Homo sapiens: one gene and its partners. The protein of the gene in region 4 interacts with the protein of the main gene of each other region in a biochemical or structural test. Each region holds a gene or a part of one and is shown on either strand. Other genes may lie near its edges. The genes, in order: PINX1, ALB, SH3BP4, TFRC and RAB8A.

Region 1 (3,500 bases), on a different chromosome or scaffold from region 4:
CACTGAGCATGGCTAAGTGCAGGAAGTAGATCATGGAAACGACAATCGGCCTTTAGCACTGGGTAGTGACCCCTGCAGATCTGAGCAGCCTCAGCATCAAACGGAGAGACCATGTGGTCTGTACACACGATATTCCACTCCTAATCAGACGATTCTGTCGGCAGCTGTGATTGTCAGGGTCACGGGCGGTGTTGGAGGGGTATGCAACTATGATTGGGGTTAGCACAAGGGAGGCCTTGGTGGTAATGAAATAGTTCAGGATCTTCACTGAGATAATAATGGTTACACAATCCACAAATGTGATAAAGGGGCACAGAGCTGTATGAGCAGATGGTACCAATGCCAATTTCCTGGTTTCATCATGCTGTACTGTAGTTACGTAAGATGTAACCACTGGGGAAAACCAGATGAAGGGTACACAGAACCCCTTTACTATCTTTGCAACATCCTGTTCATCTATAAAAAGTTAAAGAAAAAACCCTCATGACTATTAATCAAGGGCTGCAGATGTTTCTTAGATATAAATACATTCAGATCATCCAGTTCAATAGAGAGACGAAAAAATACACAAGCAACACAACATCTATGCTCCAGATGCTCAAGCTCTTTCTTAATTCAGCCTCCAGCCAATAAGGAAGTCAAGTCGTTCTTCAGGCTGGCCTGGACACCTGGTCACATGCTTGTCAACCCCTAACAGCTCACCTCTGACTACAGGTAAGGTAAAGAAGTTTTGAAATTTAAACCATTATTTTCCACAAAATAGCAACAGCCAATCATTTTCCCACAAAGTTACGATACAGCATCAACCACTGGTGTCTCTGGTGAAGCTCAACAGAAGCTGCTAAGGCCTAACTAACCCCCTTCAATGTAGATTTTTTGTTAAATGAGAAAGAGTTCATTAACTTCGGCAGGACTGCTGTATTATCGGAGAAAGGCTGATTTTGGAATTGGACGGACACAGATTTAAAAGCCCACGTGTGCCATTTTGGAGCATTCTAACAATTCTCTCTGTGCCTCAGTTTCCTCACTGCTACAGAGGAGATACTGATATTTACATGACGGGATTGCTGTGAGGATGAAATGAGAAAAATCCAGCACAGGGTTTGGCACACAGGTGCTTAATAAAATTGGAATTCTACGATGGCAGTCAGGAGCTGTAGAAATTAAAATCAGTAGGCTTCCCTTATTGCAAGGGTGATGCTGTTACCCAAGCCAAGAACATGGTTAACGCCAACGTTCTGGAACTCTGGATGCTGAAGACAGATCAGCATCGGCACCTAACTAGAGCACCCACAGAGCTACTGCTACCTTAGTGGCCCGCACTACCACGGTTTCCAGGACTCTGGAGGGAGGTGACCTCCAGCAACACCTTGGCCTCTGCAATGCCAAATATAAATCCAGACCGACGGAGCTATGAGAGTCAAGCGAAGCAACAACATACAACATTCCCGCCAACTGAGGATGGGAGCCGAAAGAGGTTGTATTTTCAAACAAATCTGATCAAAGTCCTCCTGCCTTTGACTATAAGGGCTGTTGTAACTAACAAGGTTAAGGTTTCTTAGCAATAGTCTACTCAAGGAAGGTACCGGTATACCTCAATAAAAGCAAACTTAACATATGAACATCCACAAGGATGTCAAAGATAAATGTAGAGGTCATTTTGCTTTATAGAAAGATACTCTGTTTGTCTTAAATGTGATTACATTTAAATAGATTCTGTTTTCTGCACACATGCAGGCATGTCAAAAGGAAAATACTGCCTAGACGCGACCTCCTCAGTGTGGCACACAGGTCAGCAGCAGTATCACCTGGGGGCTCCTCGGATGGGGATGTACAGGCTCTCAGCCCCCGCCCAGGCTTCCTGAGTTGGAATCTGCAGTTTGACAGGGAAGACCTGTACACACGGCAGGACTTGAGGAGCTCTGTCCTCAGGGTTACTCACGACCCGGAAGCCAGAAGCTCTCAGTACAGCTGCATGGCAGGCTATCCCCGTGTTCTCAACCCTCGCTCCTTACTGAACGTCAGAATAACTGCTGCAACAATTGGGGAGGAATTAAAAAAAAATTTTTTTTAAATTTTTCTCCTTTTGTAATATAGATACCTGGACCCTGACCGAAGATTTAATTTAATCGGTCTTGGGCAGAACCCTGGCATTAGCATTTGTTTAAAGCTCATTAGGCAATGCCAGGACGACCTTGTTGAGAACTATGGCTACAGACGGAGAGCAGGGCCTGGTAGAAGACCACCTCACCAACAGGTAGGACCTAAATTTATCACTGGAAGAAAACACTGAACTGGAAGAGAGAGAGAGATGTGACTAATGGAAATCTCACACAAAACACGATGTTGCATCAAGGTTGATCATCTCTACACACACTGGACCAAAAGAGATTTTCCTGGGGCTAGCATTAGGGAACTGCTTTTGAAGCTCCTCAAACACAGGTGGATGTCTCACTTTAACATGACTTAGCTACCAAAGAGTCAAGTAACACCACACAGTGTTGAAAACCTCAAGGCACCCAACACCCAATAAATTCTCAAACAGAAATCTGCCAGAGGATCAGAAACCTCTGATCTCTTACAACTAAGAGCTTTCTGCACCAAACACATAAATTCTCTTAAAGTTCTACAAAAGCCCACAAGTAACATTTCCCTCCCTGATCTGTTCAACTGTACATTTTCATAGAGGGTGTCCGGGAGGGCAAAGGCTGGGGGTGGTGGGTGAGCAGCAGGCAGAAGAGAGGATCAACGTGCAGGGATGTGGAAACGCCAGTACAGAAGGCACGTGAGCCCCACGGGGCTGGGGAGATGGGGGTTATCTCAAGGTATGGGAGGGACGTGGAGTTGATACAAAGGCTCAGGGTGTGATCGTGGGGTGGGGGCAGCTGTTGGGCAGAGCAAAGGAGATGGAGTTCAAGAGGCGCGGGACTGGAATTCTAGTTCTTCCTGAGGACACGGAGACGACTGAGAGAGTCAAGGAAGAGGGGTTGGAGAGGAGGCTGGGATAAGCCAGAGGCCATGTCCTTGGTGAACAAGGAAGAGTGGCGTAGTCCAGGTCTCACGGTGAGCACTGAGGGCAGAGGTACAACCAGAAGCCAGCCTGTCTGACCATGGCTCTTTCCAGCAGCCCCTTGTGAAGGAGCAGCCGGCACGGCCGGATGTCAGAGCGGCTCCTCCCTAGTGACCACTGCCTATCCCGTGACTCAGCATAGTCCGCGCAGGCACCAAAGCCAGGTATCCTTTCCCAGCCTGCTGCTTCCATCTGCTGAGGGTGCAGGGGCAGACAGGGGCTAAAAGACCCAGGAATTCAGTCCCAATCTGCACAGGGAATCATCTAATGAGACTTCTAACCACTGGTAATTCTGGACTCCCTAAAAATTATTACTATTAAGAAACAAACCACCACCCTAGAAATAAAGATTTCTGTCAGTCTGGAAAAATGCCAGGAATCAATAAACCAAGTCTTCTTTTTTGTTCTATGGTCACCAAGGGCCCTGGCT
Region 2 (6,055 bases), on a different chromosome or scaffold from region 4:
TTTTTATAGAGCTGTAGGCATGGTTCTTTATTTAATTTTTTAAAGTTATTTTTAATTTTTGTGGATACAGAGTAGGTATACATATTTACGGGGTATATGAGATATTTTGATATAAGTATACAACATATATAATCCCTTTATTTAATTTTATCTTCCCCCCAATGATCTAAAACTATTTGCTTGTCCTTTTATGTCTTATAGTTAAATTCAGTCACCAACTAAGTTGAAGTTACTTCTTATTTTTGCATAGCTCCAGCTCTGATCTTCATCTCATGTTTTTGCCTGAGCCTCTGTTTTCATATTACTTAGTTGGTTCTGGGAGCATACTTTAATAGCCGAGTCAAGAAAAATACTAGCTGCCCCGTCACCCACACTCCTCACCTGCTAGTCAACAGCAAATCAACACAACAGGAAATAAAATGAAAATAATAGACATTATGCATGCTCTCTAGAAACTGTCAATTGAACTGTATTTGCTCATCATTCCTACCATCTACACCACCAAAATCAACCAAATTTATGAAAAAAAACAGCCCCAACATAAAATTATACACAGATAAACAGGCTATGATTGGTTTTGGGAAAGAAGTCACCTTTACCTGATTTAGGCAACTGTGAAATGACTAGAGAATGAAGAAAATTAGACGTTTACATCTTGTCATAGAGTTTGAAGATAGTGCTGGATCTTTCTTTTTATAAGTAAGATCAATAAAAACTCCCTCATTCTGTAGAAGTTATGATTTCTTTTCTAAGAGACCTTTAGAAGTCAGAAAAAATGTGTTTCAATTGAGAAAAAAGATAACTGGAGTTTGTGTAGTACTTCCCAGATTATAAAATGCTTTTGTATGTATTATCTAATTTAATCCTCAAAACTTCTTCAATTTAGCATGTTGTCATGACACTGCAGAGGCTGAAGCTCAGAGAGGCTGAGCCCTCTGCTAACAAGTCCTACTGCTAACAAGTGATAAAGCCAGAGCTGGAAGTCACATCTGGACTCCAAACCTGATGCTTCTCAGCCTGTTGCCCCTTTTAGAGTTCCTTTTTAATTTCTGCTTTTATGACTTGCTAGATTTCTACCTACCACACACACTCTTAAATGGATAATTCTGCCCTAAGGATAAGTGATTACCATTTGGTTCAGAACTAGAACTAATGAATTTTAAAAATTATTTCTGTATGTCCATTTTGAATTTTCTTATGAGAAATAGTATTTGCCTAGTGTTTTCATATAAAATATCGCATGATAATACCATTTTGATTGGCGATTTTCTTTTTAGGGCAGTAGCTCGCCTGAGCCAGAGATTTCCCAAAGCTGAGTTTGCAGAAGTTTCCAAGTTAGTGACAGATCTTACCAAAGTCCACACGGAATGCTGCCATGGAGATCTGCTTGAATGTGCTGATGACAGGGTAAAGAGTCGTCGATATGCTTTTTGGTAGCTTGCATGCTCAAGTTGGTAGAATGGATGCGTTTGGTATCATTGGTGATAGCTGACAGTGGGTTGAGATTGTCTTCTGTGCTTTCGTCTGTCCTATCTTCAATCTTTCCCTGCCTATGGTGGTGGTACCTTTCTGTTTTTAACCTGGCTATAAATTACCAGATAAACCCATTCACTGATTTGTAACTCCTTTCAGTCATGCTCTAACTGTAAATGAAGGCTTAAACTGAAGTAGAACAGTTACAAGGTTTTACTTGGCAGAACATCTTGCAAGGTAGATGTCTAAGAAGATTTTTTTTTCTTTTTTTAAGACAGAGTTTCGCTCTTGTTTCCCAGGCTGGGGTGCAATGGTGTGATCTTGGCTCAGCGCAACCTCTGCCTCCTGGGTTCAAGTGATTCTCATGCCTCAGCCTCCCAAGTAGCTGGGATTACAGGCATGCGCCACCACACCTGGCTAATTTTGTATTTTTAGTAGAGGCGGGGTTTCACCATATTGTCCAGACTGGTCTCGAACTCCTGACCTCAGGTGATCCACCCGCCTTGGCCTCCCAAAGTGCTGGGATTACAGGCATGAGCCACCTTGCCCAGCCTAAGAAGATTTTTTGAGGGAGGTAGGTGGACTTGGAGAAGGTCACTACTTGAAGAGATTTTTGGAAATGATGTATTTTTCTTCTCTATATTCCTTCCCTTAATTAACTCTGTTTGTTAGATGTGCAAATATTTGGAATGATATCTCTTTTCTCAAAACTTATAATATTTTCTTTCTCCCTTTCTTCAAGATTAAACTTATGGGCAAATACTAGAATCCTAATCTCTCATGGCACTTTCTGGAAAATTTAAGGCGGTTATTTTATATATGTAAGCAGGGCCTATGACTATGATCTTGACTCATTTTTCAAAAATCTTCTATATTTTATTTAGTTATTTGGTTTCAAAAGGCCTGCACTTAATTTTGGGGGATTATTTGGAAAAACAGCATTGAGTTTTAATGAAAAAAACTTAAATGCCCTAACAGTAGAAACATAAAATTAATAAATAACTGAGCTGAGCACCTGCTACTGATTAGTCTATTTTAATTAAGTGGGAATGTTTTTGTAGTCCTATCTACATCTCCAGGTTTAGGAGCAAACAGAGTATGTTCATAGAAGGAATATGTGTATGGTCTTAGAATACAATGAATATGTTCTGCCAACTTAATAAAGGTCTGAGGAGAAAGTGTAGCAATGTCAATTCGTGTTGAACAATTTCCACCAACTTACTTATAGGCGGACCTTGCCAAGTATATCTGTGAAAATCAAGATTCGATCTCCAGTAAACTGAAGGAATGCTGTGAAAAACCTCTGTTGGAAAAATCCCACTGCATTGCCGAAGTGGAAAATGATGAGATGCCTGCTGACTTGCCTTCATTAGCTGCTGATTTTGTTGAAAGTAAGGATGTTTGCAAAAACTATGCTGAGGCAAAGGATGTCTTCCTGGGCATGTAAGTAGATAAGAAATTATTCTTTTATAGCTTTGGCATGACCTCACAACTTAGGAGGATAGCCTAGGCTTTTCTGTGGAGTTGCTACAATTTCCCTGCTGCCCAGAATGTTTCTTCATCCTTCCCTTTCCCAGGCTTTAACAATTTTTGAAATAGTTAATTAGTTGAATACATTGTCATAAAATAATACATGTTCATGGCAAAGCTCAACATTCCTTACTCCTTAGGGGTATTTCTGAAAATACGTCTAGAAACATTTTGTGTATATATAAATTATGTATACTTCAGTCATTCATTCCAAGTGTATTTCTTGAACATCTATAATATATGTGTGTGACTATGTATTGCCTGTCTATCTAACTAATCTAATCTAATCTAGTCTATCTATCTAATCTATGCAATGATAGCAAAGAAGTATAAAAAGAAATATAGAGTCTGACACCAGGTGCTTTATATTTGGTGAAAAGACCAGAAGTTCAGTATAATGGCAATATGGTAGGCAACTCAATTACAAAATAAATGTTTACATATTGTCAGAAGTTGTGGTGATAAACTGCATTTTTGTTGTTGGATTATGATAATGCACTAAATAATATTTCCTAAAATTATGTACCCTACAAGATTTCACTCATACAGAGAAGAAAGAGAATATTTTAAGAACATATCTCTGCCCATCTATTTATCAGAATCCTTTTGAGATGTAGTTTAAATCAAACAAAATGTTAATAAAAATAACAAGTATCATTCATCAAAGACTTCATATGTGCCAAGCAGTGTGTGCTTTGTGTAGATTATGTCATATAGTTCTCATAATCCACCTTCCGAGACAGATACTATTTATTTTTTGAGACAGAGTTTTACTCTTGTTGCCCAGGCTGGAGTGCAATGGTGCCATCTCGGCTCACCACAACCTCCGCCTCCCAGGTTCAAGCGATTCTCCTGCCTCAGCCTCCTGGGATTACAGGCATGCACCACCATGCCTGGCTAATTTTGTATTTTTAGTAGAGATGGGGTTTCACCATGTTGGTCAGACTGGTCTCAAACTCCTGACCTCTGGTGATATGCCTGCCTCAGCCTCCTAAAGTGCTGGGATTACAGGCATGAGCCACTGTGCCCAGCCGACAGATACTATTATTATTTCCATTCTACCGAGAAGGAGACTAAGGCTCTGATCATTTAAATAAGTTGCCTAAGGTGATGCAGTGATATAAGTAGCAGAGCTAGGAATTGAGCCTTGGTAACTTTAACTCTGGACCCCAAGTCCTTAGCTACTAAGCTTTACTGCATGGGGTTTAGTCAAATTAAGACTTTTGGAATATGAGTTACTTTTGAGATTAGCTTTGTGATATTTTTTGTGCTCATTTGTCCAACAAAGTCTATTTTATTTTCATCTTAATTAGGTTTTTGTATGAATATGCAAGAAGGCATCCTGATTACTCTGTCGTGCTGCTGCTGAGACTTGCCAAGACATATGAAACCACTCTAGAGAAGTGCTGTGCCGCTGCAGATCCTCATGAATGCTATGCCAAAGTGGTAGGTTTATTGTTGGAAAAAAATGTAGTTCTTTGACTGATGATTCCAATAATGAGAAAGAAAAATAATGCAAGAATGTAAAATGATATACAGTGCAATTTAGATCTTTTCTTGAGATGGTTTCAATTCTGGAATCTTAAACATGAAAGAAAAAGTAGCCTTAGAATGATTAACAAAATTTAGACTAGTTAGAATAGAAAGATCTGAATAGAGCAATCTCTAAAAAATTTTGATCTTTTTTTCTCTTTTTCACAATCCTGAGAACAAAAAAAAATTAAATTTAAATGTTAATTAGAAGATATTTAACTTAGATGTAAAGTGAGTTAACCTGATTCCAGGATTAATCAAGTACTAGAATTAGTATCTTATGGCAAATTATAGAACCTATCCCTTTAGAATATTTTCAAATCTTTTTGAGGATGTTTAGGAATAGTTTTACAAGAAATTAAGTTAGGAGAGGAAATCTGTTCTGGAGGATTTTTAGGGTTCCCACTAGCATATGTAATGGTTTCTGAACTATTCAGAATCAGAGAAAACTCATTTTTCCTGCTTTCAAGAAGCTACTGTATGCCAGGCACCATGCACAAACAATGACCAACGTAAAATCTCTCATTTTGGAGAGCCTGGAATCTAACTGGAAAGGTGAACTAATAATAATAATATGTACAATCATAGCCATCATTTATTAAACTTTTATTATATGCAAGGCACTGTTTAATTTCATTAGCTTACCTGGTTTACAGAGCAGCTCTATGAGATGAGTGCCATCTTTGCCCCTATTTTAGGGATAAGGATTCTGAAATGTGGAGATGGTAAGTAAAATTGCACAACTGAAGAATGAGTTACATGACTTGGCTCAAATACTGGTCATTGAACTCCAGAGCCTGAATATTCTTAACCACTTACATGATGCAAGCTCACCAAATAAATAGTTCGAATGTATTGTGACAGAGCGGCATTGATATTCATCTATTCATGTGGCTTTGAGTAGGAAGAAGAAAGGATATCATTCTGACCAGAGGGGTGAAAAACAACCTGCATCTGATCCTGAGGCATAATACTATTAACACAATTCTTTTATGTTTCAGTTCGATGAATTTAAACCTCTTGTGGAAGAGCCTCAGAATTTAATCAAACAAAATTGTGAGCTTTTTGAGCAGCTTGGAGAGTACAAATTCCAGAATGCGTAAGTAATTTTTATTGACTGATTTTTTTTATCAATTTGTAATTATTTAAGACTTAATATATGAGCCACCTAGCATAGAACTTTTAAGAATGAAAATACATTGCATATTTCTAATCACTCTTTGTCAAGAAAGATAGGAGAGGAGAGATAAAATAGTTGATGGGGTGGAGAGGTCTATATTTGAATGTAGTCTAAAAATTGTTCTCTTAAGATTGGAAGTATGTAGGCTGGGAGGGTAAATACCAAATCTTGGTATATCAGAACTGAGCATGTCCCTTGAAGGTTAAGAAATAGTTAATGGGCAAATAGAGCATGGCAATATTTTGTAGAGCAGCAAGTAGTAGGCCTTGAATAGATGTCGCTCAAAAAGTAATATGTAAGCTGAACACAAAAATGTAACAAATGAATTTAGATACATAT
Region 3 (6,055 bases), on a different chromosome or scaffold from region 4:
CCACCATAACAGAGACCATGTGCCGAGTGCTGACAGTATCCCGAGAATTGGGAATAGTCTCTTGCATCAAAAGGGCGCTGCTGAATGACTTTTCTGATTCTTAAAAAGCTGGGTTCCCTTTCAAAGGCCTCTACCACTGCCAGACGCTGCCCCTCCTCTTTGCCTGACGGGAGCCCACCGACCACGCAGTGTTTCTGGCCAGTCTACAGAGGATGCACAGCGAGGGTTTCATGTCCCCTGCTTCGCCTCTGACGCATCAGGGGGCTGAAAGAAAACCCTACCCTTGAATCATGCCACTGCCACCATTTTTTGTACATGGGACCCCTGAAGGAGCACAAGGCTTAAATGTGAATGTGCACATTTCTCCTTTCATAAATACTCATGACTCCCCCTACGGCTTATTGAATATGTATATTTGGCCACCAATATCCATAAATTCTTGTTGCCTTTGCCCCTCCCTTGAAGTGTCTGTTTTTGGCTTCTGGCAGGAGGCTCTGCTTCCCAACCTGTCAGAATAGCCACCCACAGGCTGCAACCCTTTATGAGGAATGAGGCTCTCCTTTCCAAATGAACAAACCTTGTCATTCTTCAGCTGACACCATCACGGACAGAGGCTCTGGTGGGAGAGAAGTGGCCAGGACAGAGGGGTGCTCTGAGTGCAGCCACAGCCATGCTGCTGGGAAGGGGCAGGCAGAGGTACGGGGATGCCTCACACACGGACTCTATCAAAAACAGGCACAAAAAGAATGGAAAGAGGAAATGGAACCACAGAACAGAAGCATGGTATGGCCACGTGAGAATGCCTCCCGCTTGGATTCTTAGCCCAGCCCAAGGCCTGCATTCATTCATTCATTCATTCATCATTCATTCATTCATCCATCATTCATTCATTCAATCACTTATCCATCTAGTACCTCAGTGATTCTTATGTGCCGGGGCCCTTCCTCTCATGGGACCTATGTTCAGTTAGAGTAATAATGAGAAACAAGTGCACAAGAACATAAACAAACTTGTTTCTTTTCTTCTCTTCCTTTATTTTCAAGACAGGGTTTCACTCTGTTGTCCAGGCTGGAGTGCAGTGCTGCGATCATAGCTCAGTGTAGCCTCGACCTCCTGGGCTCAAGTGATCCTCCCACCTCAGCCTCCCAAGTAGCTGGGACTACAGGTGCACACCAACACACCTGGCTGATTTAAAAAAAAAAAATTGGAGAGATGAAGCCTCACTATGTTGCTCAGGCTGGTCTTGAATTCCCGGGCTCAAGCGATTCTCCTGTCTCAGCCTCCCAAAGTGCTGGTATTACAGGTGTGAACCTCCATGCCTGGCCAAAACAAACCGCTTCTGATTCAAGAAACACCATGGAGACAGAGGATGATGGAGTGCGCGGGGCTGCAGAGAAGGACGTCCTGGAGAGACGGCATTTGAGCTGGCAGCTGAGGGAGATGAGGAGGTCTGGGAAAGGGAGCTCCAGGAAGAGGAACAGCATAGCATCTGCAGGAGCTGGAGGCCGGGCGAGCTGGGTGTGTTCAGGGCAGGGGTGCACAGAGCACAGTGGCCCCCAGGGTTGGGATGGGTAGGGCCAGATCTTACACGACTTTGTGGGGCAGGGGCAAAGGCTGACCCCGTTCTAAAGGCAGTGGAGAGAGGAACAACCCAGGTCTCATTTGACTCCTTTTTCCTTCCCATCTCCCTGCACACTGACTGTCTCAAACTCTCACATTTTCCCCATCATTTAAACACTGTTTCCAACCCAAGGCATCAGAACAAGGACACCGAAAGCTATGCTAAAAATGAGAGGCAGGGGGTGGCCTGGCTGTGACTCTCTGGGAGGGGCAGGTAAAGCGGTGGCAGAGGCCGCAGAAATCGTGGCAGCCCTGTGATGACAAGCGGAATAGAACAGCCAGTTTTCAGGGTCTCCTAATAAACGACCTGGGAGAAATCCGTCTGTGGTTTCTATAAGTTTGGCCAAGATGATGACTGACACAGGTGTGGGGGGCGGGTGGGGACACTGCAAAACCAGTTTCACTTTATCACCACAAAATCTAACCTTGCCTCAGGGAGCCGACCTGGCCAAGGGCAAGTTTCACTTCCTCCTTTCTGGGTAGCGGAAGGACTCGGGCACAGAGGACACACCCCTCCCTGGAGCGGACAGGGAGGCCCACCAAAAAATCCCCTCCCAGAGATGCTCACCAATCGAATTGAGAGAGTTTGATCATTTATGTCTTTTGGAAAAAGATAAAAAAGCAGGAAAATGAGTGTAAAAGCCACCTACTCGGCGGTTATTTTCCACAGCTGGTGTGGTACTCCTGGTTGTGTCATTTTTCCACCTCTGGTGCAACGTCGAGGTGAGTGTCCTGGGCTCAGCAATGCTGTCAGGTTCCACGACAGCATGCACAGCCACGGCTGTGGTCTCGGGGCCGCCCGCACAGAGGCTCTCACGGGATGGAGGCGCTTTGTCTGCCACTGTGCTGGGTGCACCCGTGAGGAGACCAGGCCACGGCCCGGCACCAGGTTCTGGAGAGCCAGGAGGTGTGCTCTGAATCACACATGGGTGATGGCTGATGGGAGGGACGCAGGCCATCCCCTCCCTGCAGGTGACCCCACATGGGGGCCCGGAGGCTTCCCTGCTGCGTTTGTTCGCTTCCTCCCCACCCAAGTGCAGTGATTTCCTGGTTGCCAAGGTGGCCCCCCTGACGGCCGCTTCCAGTTCCATCTCCCTCCCCTGGGCAATCTCGTGGCTCCATGCTTCTGGCACTGCACACGACTGCAGGCCACCCAGAGAGGGTCTCACCCGACTCCTGCCCCACTCCTGCCGGGCTGCGTCCCTTCTGTCTCCTGGCTCAACATGGGCAGCCGAGCCGGGTATGTGCCACATGTGACCCTTGCCTGCACACCTGTGTCTACAGGACACTCTGGGCTCTCCCAGACAAACAGGGCTCAATCCAGGGGAGCCGGGGAGGTGGCAGAAAGGCCGGGCACCAAGAAGCACGCCTCTCAGAAGCTAGGATGCAAGAAAGCCTGCGGGCTCAGAGGAACGAGGAAGAGCGGCACACGCCAAGGTCACAGGGTTTTCCCACAGGAATGAACACCAGCAATGCGCCCCTCTCCGGAGGATAGGGGTGGACTCCGTTCTATCACAGGGAGAAGTCCACAGGGACTCTCCACCACAAACACCCCTGGGGATGCCAGGACACGGATATGGCTAAGCCTAGCCAAGGTAACCGCCAGGACCCAGCTCTGCTGACGGTGGGGCTGCCTGCGGGGAGCAGTGCTAAGAAAGCGTTGAGCAAATGCTCCCCGGTTGGCTCGTGGGCCAGGGCGTAACCCACAGTCTGATGCTTACTTCCCCCTTTTATTTCTTTGGATTCCAGTTCACGGTTGTGCTGGCAAAACAAATGCTGTCCTCGCCCCAACTCAAACCAACACAGAGGGGGAAGTGGAAACAATACAGAGATGTTAGAAGCTTCAAGGAAGCAAAGGCAAGAAAAACTCACATTACAATGAACACAGGCTTTGGGGCAGCGGTTCGTGGGACTCTGGAGTCAGAGACCCTGTTGGGAATCTAACGAACCACATCTGCTCCCAAGAGATCTAAACTGAATGGCGAGAGCACAGGCCGCCTTCTGCCCCCACCCGCATCTGGTCCATTCTGGGACCCTCTTGGAGCTCACAGATTCGGTGGGAAAAGTAACTGGAATGCTCTTCTTTGCAGGGTCCTTGGGTTGTCTGGGGCCCCCCAGGATCCCCCGTAAACCCCATCTCCACTTCAAGCACACTTCAAGCCCCACACGTATATCCCAGGCAGCGGGACATCAGCCACAGACACTGTCCTGGTGACTTACAACACCACGGCCCACGCCCACGCATATTGGGAAGGCGAAAGGCTGTGCTGAGCCGCACCTATCTCAGGCAGCGGGACATCAGCCACAGACACTGTCCTGGTGACTTACAACACCACGGCCCACGCCCACGCATATTGGGAAGGCGAAAGGCTGTGCTGAGCCGCACCTATCTCAGGCAGCGGGACATCAGCCACAGACACTGTCCTGGTGACTTACAACACCACGGCCCACGCCCACGCATATTGGGAAGGCGAAAGGCTGTGCTGAGCCGCACCTATCTCAGGCAGCGGGACATCAGCCACAGACACTGTCCTGGTGACTTACAACACCACGGCCCACGCCCACGCATATTGGGAAGGCGAAAGGCTGTGCTGAGCCGCACCTATCTCAGGCAGCGGGACATCAGCCACAGACACTGTCCTGGTGACTTACGACACCACGGCCCACGCCCATGTGCACTGGGAAGGCGGAAAGGCTTTGCTGAGCAGCACCCCTGAACGCCCAGGCACCTGCTGAGCACTCACCATCACAAGCTCCTTCTGGAAGGACTTCCGTTCTTTGTTCTCAGTGTTGTTACAGTCCTCCTTCAGCTTTTCTAGGACGGACGCCACCCGCTCGGGCTCACTATCCAGCTCTGCCCGGCAGAAAAAGGTGAGCGGCAGGTTCACGTAGCCCAGGGCGTCAGCGAAGGAGCGCCAGCTGCTGATGTTCTCCATGAGCAGGGTCCTCACGGAGGCATAGATGTACGTGAGGAATTTGCAGGGCCGCAGGATCTGCTCCAGCAGCACCGAGGTGCTCAGCTCGGGGCCCGAGCACAGGCTGGGCCGGGCCCTGCCGACCACCAGCACGTTCTTGGTGTGCACGAGGCCCACCCTGCCCTGGTAGTAGCCGATGTACCACTCCTTGGTCCACAGCTGGCCCCGGAGCCTGACCCGCTCCTCGCTGAGCAGGGCGATCCCGTCGCCCTTCTTGTACTCCAGCAGGTAGTGGTTCTTGTTCTGCCGCACCACAGTCTTGAGCAACTTACCAAACTTGAGGCTGGACACCGGGCGGTCCTGGAAAGTCGGGTACTTTGTAGTGGTGGCAAACGGGGACAGGATGATTTTCCCGACTTCGTTCTTCTTGAGAAACCTCCTTTGCCCGGAAGGCTTGATGGCACTTTTAGGGGGTGGCTGAGGAGTCTGGACACAAAACTGGGTGAGGATGGCCTCCTGGTCGTCCTTCACCTGAACCCGCAGCGTGAAGTCAGAGAGCTCGTTGGGGTTCTGGGAGGTGATGGGGAAGATCAGGCGGCTCACCTTGCCCAGCTTCAGCTGGAATCCTCGCACCACTTTGGCCTGCTCGCTGGCTTTGACCTCGTAATTCGTCATATTGGAAAACATACAGACCTTGAGATCCTGGGGCCTGGACAAAACGAACTGGTGCTTCCCCCACAGCTGCAGGGCCACCGGGGCAGGGTTGGGTGCCTGGCGTGTGACCTCGCTGACCAGGAGCGTCTTTGGGGCACAGTCATGCCCAAAAATGGTCACTACCGTCTTGAAGGATGGGTGGATGTGTTTAGGGCCGTAGAGACCCACTGTGACTTTTTTATTGATGAAGTCCCACACGGTGGAAGGGTAGAGGATGCTTGGGCCATGGGCCACGACAGCCACGTACATACAGGGCTCCAGGTTGTGCAGCTGTGCCTGGACCGTGTCCCCACAGCTGCAGTTGAGCGGGACGGAGACATATGGCCCTTCCTTCGAGTCGCTCCTCAGGCACTGGAGGCCCACTGTGCTTTTGCTAAAAAGGTCATTTTTTATCTCGGCTGACACTTTCATCTCCAAGATGATAGAGGTTTTCACCTCCAGGTTGCTCAGCTTGACCTCCAGCACAGGGCTGATGCTGCAGGACCTGTCACTGTTGAGCTCCAGCGGGGGGTCCAGCAGGGCTTTCATGGAGATCTGCTGGGTCTCCCCAGGGGCGACGTGGCCCTCGGGCACGTGGATGCTGATGCTGGTGTCAGGAAGCTGGACAGCACCCCCGGAGCTATCCAGCTTGCACACGATGTTTGTCTCCACGGCTTGGGTCTGGCCCCAACCAGGGCTTTGGCCAAGCAAGTCCAGGTCGTGGCAAGACCGGGCCAGCTTCCTGTGGTTTAGCCAGGCAGTTCGAAAATCCTCCCGGCTCTGAAATTGCTCGGGGGCAGGTGATTTCAAGCCGGTGAAGAAACTCG
Region 4 (6,055 bases):
ACCTTTCAGTTAAAACCTATTTCTATGATGTCCTCAAGGCTAAGATTGTTCCAGGCCTCCAGTCCCATGACCAGCCTACATAGGCCTCTTTAATCTAAATGCCCTTCAGATGAAAGGCAGCATGGGATAAAAGCATGAAAGACATAGGAGGCCAAAAATCTTGATTTTATTCCAATAGCTCTGACCTAAAAGTTGTAAAGTTTTTTAGAACTCATGTCTTTTTTAGGCCTTGGCCTCCTTTTATCTCTTACTTGGGTTGCCTGTCTTAGGTTTGATCTATAACACTCTTCTGTCTCAAGATTTTAGAGCTGTTCCGATACCATAATGCTCATTAAATCTAATGTCTTTGTTCTAGGGTAAACTGGTCCATGCTAATTTTGGTACTAAAAAAGATTTTGAGGATTTATACACTCCTGTGAATGGATCTATAGTGATTGTCAGAGCAGGGAAAATCACCTTTGCAGAAAAGGTGAGTATGAGTTATTATAATATTAAATACAGTACTTTTGGTATCTTACTCTTCAGGTAAGTGATATTTCTTGTTAATATTCTTACATTCTGAAAATCAGCAATCTTAAACTCTCATACCAGATAATATAATTTATTAAAATGCTCAACAAATGAAGTAAGTTCCACTTACCTAATCAGAAGTGCTTAAGTGAAAGCTATTTCTCTGTATAACTCAGTTTTACGCATATACAGAATTCAGCTAAAAGCATGTTTTATAAAAAGGAAAATTAATAGCCAAACATACACAAGGAACTAGAGTGGAACATATCAAAAGACAGTGGTGATTTCTGCATTTTTAAAAAAAGTGGCAGGGCTCACACCTGTAATCCCAACACTTTAGGAGGCTGAGGTGGGAGGACTGCTTGAGCCCTGGAGGTTGTGAGATGTGACTCGTGCCACTCCAGCCTGAGTGACAGTGAGACTCAAAAAAGTGGTTGTCTTAGATGGGTTTTTGTTATTTTTCTTTTCTTTTTTTTTTTTTTTTTTGAGACGGAGTCTCTTGTCACCCTGGCTGGAGTGCAGTGGCGTGATCTCAGCTCACTGCAACCTCCGCCTCCCAGGTTCAAGTGATGCTCCTGCCTCAGCCTTCTGAGTAGCTGGGATTACAGGTGCCCACCACCACCATGCCTGGCTAATTTTTGCATTTTTAGTAGAGACAGGGTTTCACGACGTTGGCCTGGCTGGTCTTGAACTCCTGACGTCAGGTGATCCACCTGCCTTGGCCTCCCAGATTGCTGGGATTACAGGTGTGAGCCACCACTCCTGGCCTTTGTTATTCTTTTTTTTTTTTTTTTTTTTTTTTTGAGAGGGAGTTTTGCTCTTTTGTCCAGGCTGGAGTGCAGTGGCGCAATTTTGGCTCACTGCAACCTCTGCCTTATGGTTTCAAGCGATTCTCCTGCCTCAGCTTCCCAAATAGCTGGGAATACAGGCGCCAGCCACTGCGCCCAGTTAATTTTTGTATTTTTAGTAGAGACAGGGTTTCACCATGTTGGCCAGGCTGGTCTCGAACTCCTGAGCTTGTGATCCCCCTGCCTCAGCCTTGCAAGGTGTTGGGATTACAGGCGTGAGCCACCACTCCTGGCCCGTTACTCTTATTTTGCAAACAAGTGAGTTAATTTTTCAGGAAGCAATTAATAAATTACCAGATAAACAATTTGAAATATTTGGAAGTATTATAAGTTTAGTCCTCTGTAACCATTTGGCCTTTAGCATAATGTCCAGGATGTATTCTCATTTCGTATGATCAGATCTTCATTTTCTGAGCTTTATATGTTTTCTTTTAGGTTGCAAATGCTGAAAGCTTAAATGCAATTGGTGTGTTGATATACATGGACCAGACTAAATTTCCCATTGTTAACGCAGAACTTTCATTCTTTGGACATGTGAGTTATTTCTTGAGTAAATCACCGTTTTGAGTTCCTTGAGTTGTTCTTGGATTCCTGTATTAGCAGAAATAGCACTGTGTCTTCCTTAACTGCTCTTTTTTCTGGGAGGGCGTTAGCAGTAAGCAAGAAGATAGATTACATTGACTTTGAGGCTTTATTATTTGTTGCTAAAAGTACTTTGTCAATAGTGCCTTGAATTTGAGAATTTCCATATGCCATGAAAACAGGAGTCACATTGTAGAGCCACTCAGATTTTTGAGGCTTCAAGTTGGTAAACTAAGGTTGGGCTGCAGCCTTATACCAAACCTGAATCTTACAGAGAAGTTTTGAGGAAGTATGTGATGGAGTGAATTGCTCTTTTGTTTTCCTAGGCTCATCTGGGGACAGGTGACCCTTACACACCTGGATTCCCTTCCTTCAATCACACTCAGTTTCCACCATCTCGGTCATCAGGATTGCCTAATATACCTGTCCAGACAATCTCCAGAGCTGCTGCAGAAAAGCTGTTTGGGTAAGTTTTTATTTGAAAGCGGTCTTGCATAGTGAGGTTTTATGATTAGGGAAGAACGGTAATATGTTGATTAAAATGTTAAACATGATGATAATTTTCCACATTTGGGAATTTGGAGGATGGTTAGCTGTTACCTTGGTACAGATATAAATGAATTTTTCTCTATAAAGAGATCTTAATAATGGACTTTGGACTTATAAACACAGGAGAATAAGGAGACTTATAAACCCAGTGAATTCCTTGTGCAAGATTCCTGGCATAGCTTCTGCTCAAGTACTTCTGTGCTGAAGCACGATGCCTATAGCAGCCCATTCAGTTAGTAGAGAGAATCTGTTAGAATTCATATTGGGATAAAATCCTATTCCCCGAAACATCCATTTGTCTGGATTTTTCTTCTAAGCAATACGGTATGATTCCAGTTACCTTGTCTATAGATTGAGAAGCCTTGCTTCTTATGATGGTTTCCAGAGAAACCATTTATGGTTGTGGCTCGCTCCTCTGGATATCCTCCCTGTAACGTTAGTGTCTCTCTTTAAAAACAGAGCCCAGTTCCATTAGAGTACGTAGCATTAATTTTGATTTGGATGTGGACATATTTATCATTTCCTGTTATTACAGGATGGAGATCTAGTTTCAGGCCTTTATGAAAGCATTTATCTCCTGTATGACATAGGTTCTCTGATCCTGTTTCTTTAACATAATTGGATAGTGAAAATATATTCTACTTGATAGTCTCAAATGAAGAACATCTGTATATAAGGAGTATATGAAATACCATGACTGTTGATCATGCTGAGAGGCCTTTAGCATAGGGGAGTGTGTAACATACCATGACTATTGATAACGCTAAGAGGCATTTAGCATAGGTGATTTTTTTGACTCATTCTACCTACCACCTACAAATCGTAACCAACCTGTGAAGCCAGCGTCCCATCTTATCCTTATGTAGTAGGGGAGTAATAATGTTTCAACCTATATTTATGTAAGTAAGCCCCCTTAGGAGCAGCTATTATTTGGGTAACACAGAGGAATTAGATAGGGGAAGCACAAGATTTTTTTTTTATTTTGACAGTCTCACTCTGTTGCCCAGGCAGGAGTGCAGTGGCATGATCCTGGCTCACTGCAACCTCCACCTCCTGGGTTCAAGGAATTCTGCCTCGGCCTTCCAAAGTGCTGGGATTACAGGCGTGAGCCACCGCACCCAGCTGAGGAATATTTTTTATAACTGAGCTAAGAATGTGTACTATCCTTGTTAGTGGTGACAGTTGGGAAACATAAAAGTGTATTAATATTCTTTTATATATTAGAAGAACTTCATTTTGAGTCCATCTTGGTATGTATTCCAAATATAAACTACGTAAGTATGTCTGGCAGAAAGGCGCATAGTTAGAGAAGTGTTTTAAAATATTGCTTAATTAATGGTTTCCAATTGGCTGCCTGCAGATCAAAGTAAGACGCAAATGGTTCACCACTAGAGAGTAAGTTTTTTTTTGTTTTTATTTTGTTTTGTTTTGTTTTGTTTTTTTTTGAGACAGGACTTGTGCTCTGTTGCCCAGGCTGGAGTGCAGTGGCGTGATCTCGGCTCACTGCAGCCTCCGCCTCCCAGGTTCAAGCGATTCTCCTCCTCATCCTCCTTAGTAGCTGGGATTACAGGCGCATGCCACCATGCCCAGTTAATTTTTGTATTTTTAGTAGAGTCGGGGTTTCACCATGTCGGTCAGGCTGGTCTTGAACTCCTGACCTTGTGATCCACCTGCCTCAGCCTCCCAAAGTGCTGGGATTACAGGGGTGAGCCACTTCGCCGGGCTGAGAGTAAGTTTTGTTTATATGTCCTCTTAATCTGTAACTTCACTGGACAGGAGTAAACCCTGGGCAAGGAACAATAACTCAGAACTTACGCCTGCTTTCTGATTCTAGGAATATGGAAGGAGACTGTCCCTCTGACTGGAAAACAGACTCTACATGTAGGATGGTAACCTCAGAAAGCAAGAATGTGAAGCTCACTGTGAGCAATGTGCTGAAAGAGATAAAAATTCTTAACATCTTTGGAGTTATTAAAGGCTTTGTAGAACCAGGTAAAGACCGCCCCCCCCCCCCCCCGCCCCGCTTTTTTTTTGTTTTCTTTTCTGTTCCTAAGGATGTGGCTAGAGAAGGAGCGAGTGTAGGAATGCTGGCTTGGCTTGGTTTTATGAAGTGCTCAATCTTGTCTGTCCTAAAGTTAATTGTTTATGTGTTAGTTTCTTTTTTTTTTTTTTGAGAAAGAGTTTCACTCTTGTTGCCCAGGCTGGAGTGCAGTGGTGTGATCTCGGCTCACTGCAATTTCCGCCTCCCAGGTTCAAGCCATTCTCCTGCCTCAGCCTCCCCAGTAGCTGGGATTACAGGCATGCGCCACCACGCCTGGCTAATTTTGTATTTTTAGTAGAGACAGGGTTTCTCCATGTTGGTCAGGCTCCATGAGGTCAGAGCTCCTGACCTCAGGTGATCTGCCTCCCTCAGCCTCCCAAAGTGCTGGGATTACAGGCATGAGCCACCGCGCCCAGCCTATGTGTCAGTTTTATTGGGAGGTAATAAGGCCCTAGGAAATTCTTGTTAAAAATTGACCATTATGACTAGAAAATCTATTCTAAGTTATTGACTAGACCAGTGATAAGCAAATTTCTTAAGGGGGCAGATAATAAACCTTTTGCCAGGCTATACAGTCTCTCTTTTAGCTGTTCAACTCTGTGGGAGCAAGAAAACAGGCACAGACTGTGCGTAGTGAATGGGCATGCGGGCTGTAGTTTGCCAGTCCCTGGAGTTAACTTTAAATGCAATCAAACAGCCAACACTTACTAAGAAATAAGTCCTTGGACTTAAGTAGTCAGTAAATTTAATTAGTAGTGTAGGAAAAAAGTAGCTCTACTAGTAAGGTAAAATTAATATTCTCATGTGAATTTTTAATTCCCAGAGTTTTTAGTCAGATTTGAAGTAAGGCTCTTTTATCCTTAATACATATACTGTGCTTTTACCTTTCTACTGATGTGCTAATTCTAGAAAAGTTTAGAAGCTGATTATATAAGTTCTTTCTTCCTCTTTTTTCTTTTTTAAAGATCACTATGTTGTAGTTGGGGCCCAGAGAGATGCATGGGGCCCTGGAGCTGCAAAATCCGGTGTAGGCACAGCTCTCCTATTGAAACTTGCCCAGATGTTCTCAGATATGGTCTTAAAAGGTAGAGTACAAATTTTGATTCTTTTGAATATTGGTGCACTGCATACAGTTCTAGATGTTATACTGTGCTTTGCTCACTTTGCCTGCATTCCTGTGGTTCTCATGCTAGACTCTAGTTCTTAAATACAAGGCAGATTGTCTTTTGTTGTAGCTGCCTTTTCCTTTGAAACAGCTTTCCATAAAGTGTCTTAACTGTGCTAGAAATCACCAGTTTCTTTGAGACAGTGGAGTTACTGAGCCCTAGTGCTTAGTGTGGTGGATCCAGAGTGATAAGGTGGATCATAGTCCCTAAGCAATCTATTTGAAAGCAGTAGCATACCTCTCTACTCATGTACTGAGGCCTAACAGCTATTGAAATTTTGTTCTGTTTATTCATTTATTCATTTTTTGAGACAGAGTTTCACTCTGTTGCCCAGGCTGGAGTGCAGTGGTGTGATCTCA
Region 5 (6,055 bases), on a different chromosome or scaffold from region 4:
AACAAACCAATCATCTATCTATCCAACCATCTCCTTCCAACAAATCAACCATCGATTTATTCCCTTTCAACCAACCATCCATCCATTATCTTCTACCCATCCATCCAATTCTCTTACAACTGATAATTCGTTTTTCAGAAACAGATCTATTTTCCATCTGCTATATACCACCCCTTCCAACCACTCTCTCACTTATCTGCCCACCCCATCATACCCTTCCCAGCACTTTGGGAGGCTGAGGCAGAAGAACTGCTTGAGCCCAGGAGTTTGAGTCCAGCCTGGGTAACAAGTGAGATCCTGCCTCTTAAAAAAGAAAAAATGGCCAGGCGGGGTGGCCCACACCTGTAATCCCAACACTTTGGGAGGCCGAGGCAGGTGGATCACCTGAGGTCAGGAGTTCAAGACCAGCCTGACCAACATGGTGAAGCCTCGTCTCTACTAAAAATACAAAAATTAGCTGGGCGTGGTGACATGTGCCTGTAATCCCAAGTACTCGGGAGGTTGAGTCAGAAGAACCGCTTGAACCTGGGAGGCAGAGGTTGCAGTGAGCAGGGATTGCACCATTGCACTCTAGCCTGGGCAACAGAGCGAGACTCCTTCTCAAAAAAAAAGAAAAAGAAAAAAAATTAGCCAGGCATGGTGGTGTGTGCTTATAGCCCCAGCTACTTGGGAGGCGGAGGTGGGAGGATTGCTTGAGCCCAGGAGTTGAAGGCTGCAGTGAGCTGTGATGGTGCCACTGCACTCCAGCCTAGGTGGCAAAGTGAGACTCTAAAAAAAAAATCTCTTTTTTAACTAATAAGAAAACTAAAAGAAAAAAGAATCAGACCTTGACCATTATACTGAAGAAAAAAAATTGCAAGAAAATCCCAAATTATTGTTGGTCAGTGCACTGGTTTCCATGAACTGTTTCCCATTTTAATTTAATGGCCAAAGAGCTGCTATTAAATCAATCACATGCCTCACTGTTCAACACACCGCATCTTAGAATTACAAAACAGATTTGCTTACATCAGATGTAAAACTTGAACGGCATTTTGTATTTTATGTGCATTCTCAAGTGACCAGACTTAACCCACAAATAGAGCGCCGTGTGCTCCTCGATTGGACAACCAATGTAACATGGCCGGGAAAGGGCAGTTGCTGGAACCAGGGCGAGGGAGGAAGGGTCACTACGGTGTTTAGGCACTAAATGCCCCCAAAGTACAGGGAAGTGTTTGATTCCATCAAGAAAGCACCATTGATACTGAGCGCAGCGGACTAGGAAATCGCTAACGTGGTAAAAAAAAAAAAGCAAGAAACGAATGAGAGGGTAGATGGGTAGGGATTCATGCAGACTTCCCTGGAGGCCTCAGAGAACCCTGGGACACAATGAAGGTTGCAGAGCTGTCACAACTTGTAGCATCTGGGGCTGGGGTGGAGCGGGGGCAGGTTCTTGATCTGCCATGCTTGTCAAGACGATGAGCCAGCAGTTATCAGACACCAGCCCTGGCCCTGCCCAAGCGACCTAGGAAGCTTTTCTCCGAGCCATGGCTCTCTGTCCTTGCACACCATGTTGTCTTTCTGGCCCTTGAGTGGAATGGAAAAGGCCGTGTGCTCCCTGCTAGCCTGGGGATTCACCGGGCACGGCCTTGTCTGCTTGGGCAGCGTCCCCAGGCTGGCACTGCCTGATGCTGATGCCCCAGCCACACCTGCAAACTCTTCCCCCTTTCCCAGCAATGTCCCATGGGGTCTGGCTGGGCCCTAAAAAGCAGGATCTAGGGCACGTCATATCACTGCTGCTAACGACGATGGCTGGATCCCAGAGATCCACCCGGGGATCTCGGAAGGACACACACTCACCAATTTTTTGTCCATTTTTGCTTTGATATCTCTGGCGAGAGTGAAAAATGCCTGTGGAATAAGCACATTGTGAGTCCTTGGGATGGCAGGACCCTGAGTCCTCAGCCGCCCGTGTACAGCGGGTGTGGTGAGACAGCTTCCCAGGCGTGGGCCTCCCATTTGGCCCTTTGATGCCCGCCTCTGGCAGTGGGTTCATCTGGCCTGTCCGGCCCCAGCTCATCCTTCCCCGGCTCCCTCTGCCTCCCACCCACCCTTACTCTCTGACATCAACTCTCACTTCCGCAGAGCACCTTAGCATTGACGGGACTTTACGCATGTGCCACCTCCCCTAAGCCCTGTGAGATGGGGCGACACTCAGTTGGCCAGAGAGGAAACTGAGGCTCAGAGAGGCCAAGTGACTTGTCCAAAGGAACCCAGCAGTTAACCGACCAATCCAGAAGGATCTAGGAGTGCCCAGTTCTTTGTCTCTGACTCCTAGGTTCTGTCAGCTCTGGCCTCCCTTCTGATGGTCAGGGAAAAAGGCAAGCAGCTCTGTGGCCAAACAAGCTTCACTCGGAGTCCTTGCCTGGCAGGGCTGGGAGCGGGAGCAGGTTCATCTCCCAGCACAGCCAAGGGTTGAGCTGCTGTCACAGCCTTGAGGAGGGGACATACAGAGATGGCGGGAGGCGTGATCCCAACATACATCCCCATGATGTGGGAGGTTCTGGAGAGGAGAGTGGCTTGGGGTGCGGAGGAAGGCCCAGGGGAGACTGAAGGTGTTCTTGGGGAGAGGCCCCCAGGGCCAGGCCCTGACTAGAAAAGGGAACCTGGCAGGCAGAAAAAGGGGCACACAGGAGGGAAATGCAGTGACGTATTGGAGAAGGGAGCAGCCCAGGTGGCCTGGGGAGGGCAAGGCCTGAGCCCTGGGTGGCAAACACCAGCTGTAGCCGGTGAGGGAGGGCCTTCCACGCCAGGCAAGGAGTCTAGCCTTTGTCTTCACGTCAGCATAGAGACTTTAGGTCGGGAGTGATATGGAAGATCCGCCTTGGAAACATGACTAGGATGGGGAAACATCACAGGATCGGCCGCAGGGCTGGGGTCGCCCCGTGGAGAGGGGAGGGTGGCATGGGCCCAGGTCCCATCAGGGCTCCCTGCTATGTCTGGGCTTTTTTGACAGGGGCCTCTCCAGGGTGAGTGGTGTGGCTGAGAGGGTAAACACAGAGCTGGGTCTTTCTGAGCCTTAGTTTCCTCACCTGTAAAACCGTGCCTATTCCCCAGGGCTGCCCAAGAGCCCGTGAGATGCGTCCTAGGTGCCCTTTGTGGTGCCTGTCCCTGCTGATGGCACATTCCCAGGGGCTGCCTGTGCTTGGCACGTGGCACTGCCCAGGAAATGTCCCTCAGAGGACTGACTGGCAGCCCTGAGCCCGAGGCTGGTCCGTCTGGCAGGACCTCCTCGGAGGACGCCAGCTCCCCCTTTAGCCTGAAGGGGCCGATCCTGCAGGCCCCATGTCTCCCAGCAGGGCCCGGGACTCACATTTTCCACATTGATGTTGGCCTTCGCGCTGGTCTCCATGAACTTGATTCCATAGTCGAGGGCCAGCTGTGAGAGAGGGAGGCACACGCATGAGCACACCAGCCGCCGGGCGCATCTGAGCTTGCCTAAAACAGGAGCTGAAGGCAGGGCCGGCGCCAAGAGGGAGCAGCAACAGGGCTGGGGCTGTGGGCGTGACTTCCTGGATCACTCCCTCAATTCTATAGTGAATGCCCCTCCACAGGGCCTCACAGGGCATGGAGTTGCTGGGGATGGCAGCTGAGATGGGAGGGTGGCGGGGACCTGCTGGGATCAAACTATGGCTCTGTTCCCCGCTCCTGTGGTCTTGAAAGTCTGGAGCGGGGCCATGGTAGGTTTTGATGAGATGCCCGCAGAGTGCACCCAAGAAGCCCCGGCTGGGTGTGTGCTTCTGTCATCCCATGGCACGTGCCCCACTGGGGTGACCAACTCGTCTCAGGCCCCTGGGGCAGAGGAGGGACAGGGGAAGGCCTCTGCACAAGAACCCCAAGACCCCGAGGCCCTCTGCCCCTTGTGCCACCATGCCCACCTTTTCTCCCCGTTCCTTGGAAACTTGTCTCTTGTCATTCACATCACACTTGTTCCCGAGTATCATCTTTTCGACGTCTGCAGAGGCGTGCTGAGAGGGAGGGGGACAGACGGGGGATCAGACCGGATGACACAGGCCAGGTGCCTCTGCCAACACACAGTCTGTCCCCAGAAATCAGAGCGGTGGGGTCAGGACTGCTAGGTACAGCCTGGTCTAAGGGACAAGCTGAAGCTCAGAGAGGCCAAGCAGCCGGCCCCATGTCACACAGCCAATGCCAGGGCTGGGGCCAGGGTTCTAGCTGCTACTCTGAGCAAATGCACATTTTCTGAAATGCTTTCTGGCAGCTTCTATGGCTGTATCAATCAAGCCCCCGCACCTGGGATGCTGGGCGGGTCTAGCCTATGGGAGGTGAGTGAGGCTGAGATATTTACCCCCCGACCTTGGCTTTCCTCCTTCCCTCCCTGGCTCCTCTGCAAGAGGCCCCAGCTGTTGTCCTGGGACCTTCTGCTTTGACACTTTTTTTTTTGTTTTTTTTTGAGATGGAGTCTCGTTCTGTCTCCCAGGCTGGAGTGTAGTGGCATGATCTCGGCTCACTGCAACCTCTGCCTTCAGGTTCAAGCGATCCTCAACCTCCCGAATAGCTGAGATTACAGGCATCTGCCACCATACCAGGCTAATTTTTTGTATTTTTAGTAGAGACAGAGTTTCGCCATGTTGGCTAGGCTGGTCTCAAACTTCTGACCTCAGGTGATCTGCCCGCCTCAGCCTCCCAAACTGCTGGGATTACAGGCATAAGCCACCTCGCCTGGCCCTGACATTTCAACTATTTTTGGGCTCCAGAAACAGGCCGTGCCTGAGGTGGTCGCAACTCGAGGCCGTCACCAGCTGCAGGCACTTCACCACCCTGTCTGATGTTGCCCAAACTCTGCCCTCATACCCAAAGGCAGCTCCTTCGTCAAGTCTCCCTGGGTCCCCATGGAGCGGACCACGCTTCCTGGAGGACGGGGACACTGGAAACTGCTGTCTTCTTCCACCAGCTCAGACTTGGTCTCTGGAACCTACTGCGCCACTCCCTGCCTCACTTCCCATGAACCAGAAGGTGGCTCCTGCCCGCTGGCCAGAAACAGAGACCTTTCACAAAGACCAGGCTCTCCTCCTCTCCACGGATGAAGACAGCTTTCCCAGCTGGGGTGCAGCCCTGCACTGGCAAATTTGGCAGCACAGCCCTCTCAGGGTCACTGGGGAGGTGAGCCCAGTGCAATGACTCACAAATGATGGGGTGGCCTCTCGGCCTGGCCTGGGAGGTCCATGAGTCCTGGGTGGACAGTGATATGCCCTTTTGCTGTGGTTTTATAGATGGGAAAAGTTCTCTGGCTGTGCCTCAGACCTGAAGCCCCACATGGTTAGTTATAGAAAGCTGCAGGTGCCGGCAGCCAGGAAGGCTTTGGGGGTGAGGTCAGCTCTTTGGGGAGCAGAAGATGAAGATGCTGGCTTTGGGAGGGGAGGAGGGGTTGGCCTACTTCTCACTGCTCTATGGTTCAAGGTCTGAACACAGGTCGTTTGTACCAGGTCACACCCTGCTCCGATATAGCTCAAAGTACAACTGACGCCTGCTCACCACACCCTCCAACTACAAGGGTCACACCTGTGCTAGACCCTTCCTTCTCTAGAAAGCACCCAACACTCATGGTGACCACAAGCTTGGATATCCTTTCTCTTATAACCATGACACTGGCCAGATCCAACAGCCTAGCTGGAGGGATGGGCTCCGAGGGGCTCCGGGGTGGGGCCAGGCCAGTGTGTGGTCCCTGGGGCCGGCTGCTTGCATCTCAGTCCCTGCTCCCACCATGTCCCTGACTAGGAGGCTGTGGGCAAGTGGCCTGTATGTGTCTCTGCACCTTGGCCTTCTCATGAGTAAACCAGAGGGCTCTGGGACAAGGACTGAAGCAGGGACAGTGGGAGGAGCCGGAGGGCCTCACCTCCTCAATGTTGCGAATCCAGTTCCGGATGTTGTCGAAGGACTTCTCGTTGGTGATGTCGTAGACCAGCATGATGCCCTGCGCGGGGAGAGAAGACACAGGTGCCTGATCGGCTGCAGGCTCTGGAAGGGAGGCCTCAGCGGCACCAGAGAACAGTGG

What was found.
Region 1: the proteins of TFRC (region 4) and PINX1 interact in a test that uses a peptide from one of them, tested with the Homo sapiens proteins (one study listed by BioGRID).
Region 2: the proteins of TFRC (region 4) and ALB form a complex in vitro, tested with the Homo sapiens proteins (one study listed by IntAct).
Region 3: the proteins of TFRC (region 4) and SH3BP4 form a complex in vitro, tested with the Homo sapiens proteins (one study listed by IntAct).
Region 5: the proteins of TFRC (region 4) and RAB8A form a complex in vitro, tested with the Homo sapiens proteins (one study listed by BioGRID).

What each region holds. Positions count from the first base shown.
Region 1 is NC_000008.11:10,815,876-10,819,375, forward strand, and holds part of PINX1 (PIN2/TERF1-interacting telomerase inhibitor 1), read right to left. Parts: intron 1-3,500. UniProt on the Homo sapiens protein: Microtubule-binding protein essential for faithful chromosome segregation. Mediates TRF1 and TERT accumulation in nucleolus and enhances TRF1 binding to telomeres. Inhibits telomerase activity. May inhibit cell proliferation and act as tumor suppressor.
Region 2 is NC_000004.12:73,410,719-73,416,773, forward strand, and holds part of ALB (albumin preproprotein), read left to right. Parts: intron 1-1,277; coding exon 1,278-1,407; intron 1,408-2,701; coding exon 2,702-2,916; intron 2,917-4,316; coding exon 4,317-4,449; intron 4,450-5,537; coding exon 5,538-5,635; intron 5,636-6,055. UniProt on the Homo sapiens protein: Binds water, Ca(2+), Na(+), K(+), fatty acids, hormones, bilirubin and drugs. Its main function is the regulation of the colloidal osmotic pressure of blood. Major zinc transporter in plasma, typically binds about 80% of all plasma zinc.
Region 3 is NC_000002.12:235,041,557-235,047,611, reverse strand, and holds part of SH3BP4 (SH3 domain-binding protein 4), read right to left. Parts: coding exon 4,365-6,055; intron 1-4,364. UniProt on the Homo sapiens protein: May function in transferrin receptor internalization at the plasma membrane through a cargo-specific control of clathrin-mediated endocytosis.
Region 4 is NC_000003.12:196,063,869-196,069,923, reverse strand, and holds part of TFRC (transferrin receptor protein 1), read left to right. Parts: intron 1-355; coding exon 356-469; intron 470-1,793; coding exon 1,794-1,892; intron 1,893-2,266; coding exon 2,267-2,406; intron 2,407-4,323; coding exon 4,324-4,481; intron 4,482-5,495; coding exon 5,496-5,615; intron 5,616-6,055. UniProt on the Homo sapiens protein: Cellular uptake of iron occurs via receptor-mediated endocytosis of ligand-occupied transferrin receptor into specialized endosomes. Endosomal acidification leads to iron release.
Region 5 is NC_000019.10:16,125,389-16,131,443, reverse strand, and holds part of RAB8A (ras-related protein Rab-8A), read right to left. Parts: exon of another isoform or gene 5,975-6,055; coding exon 5,897-5,974; exon of another isoform or gene 4,457-5,896; intron 4,008-4,456; coding exon 3,918-4,007; intron 3,419-3,917; coding exon 3,353-3,418; intron 1,891-3,352; coding exon 1,840-1,890; intron 1-1,839. UniProt on the Homo sapiens protein: The small GTPases Rab are key regulators of intracellular membrane trafficking, from the formation of transport vesicles to their fusion with membranes.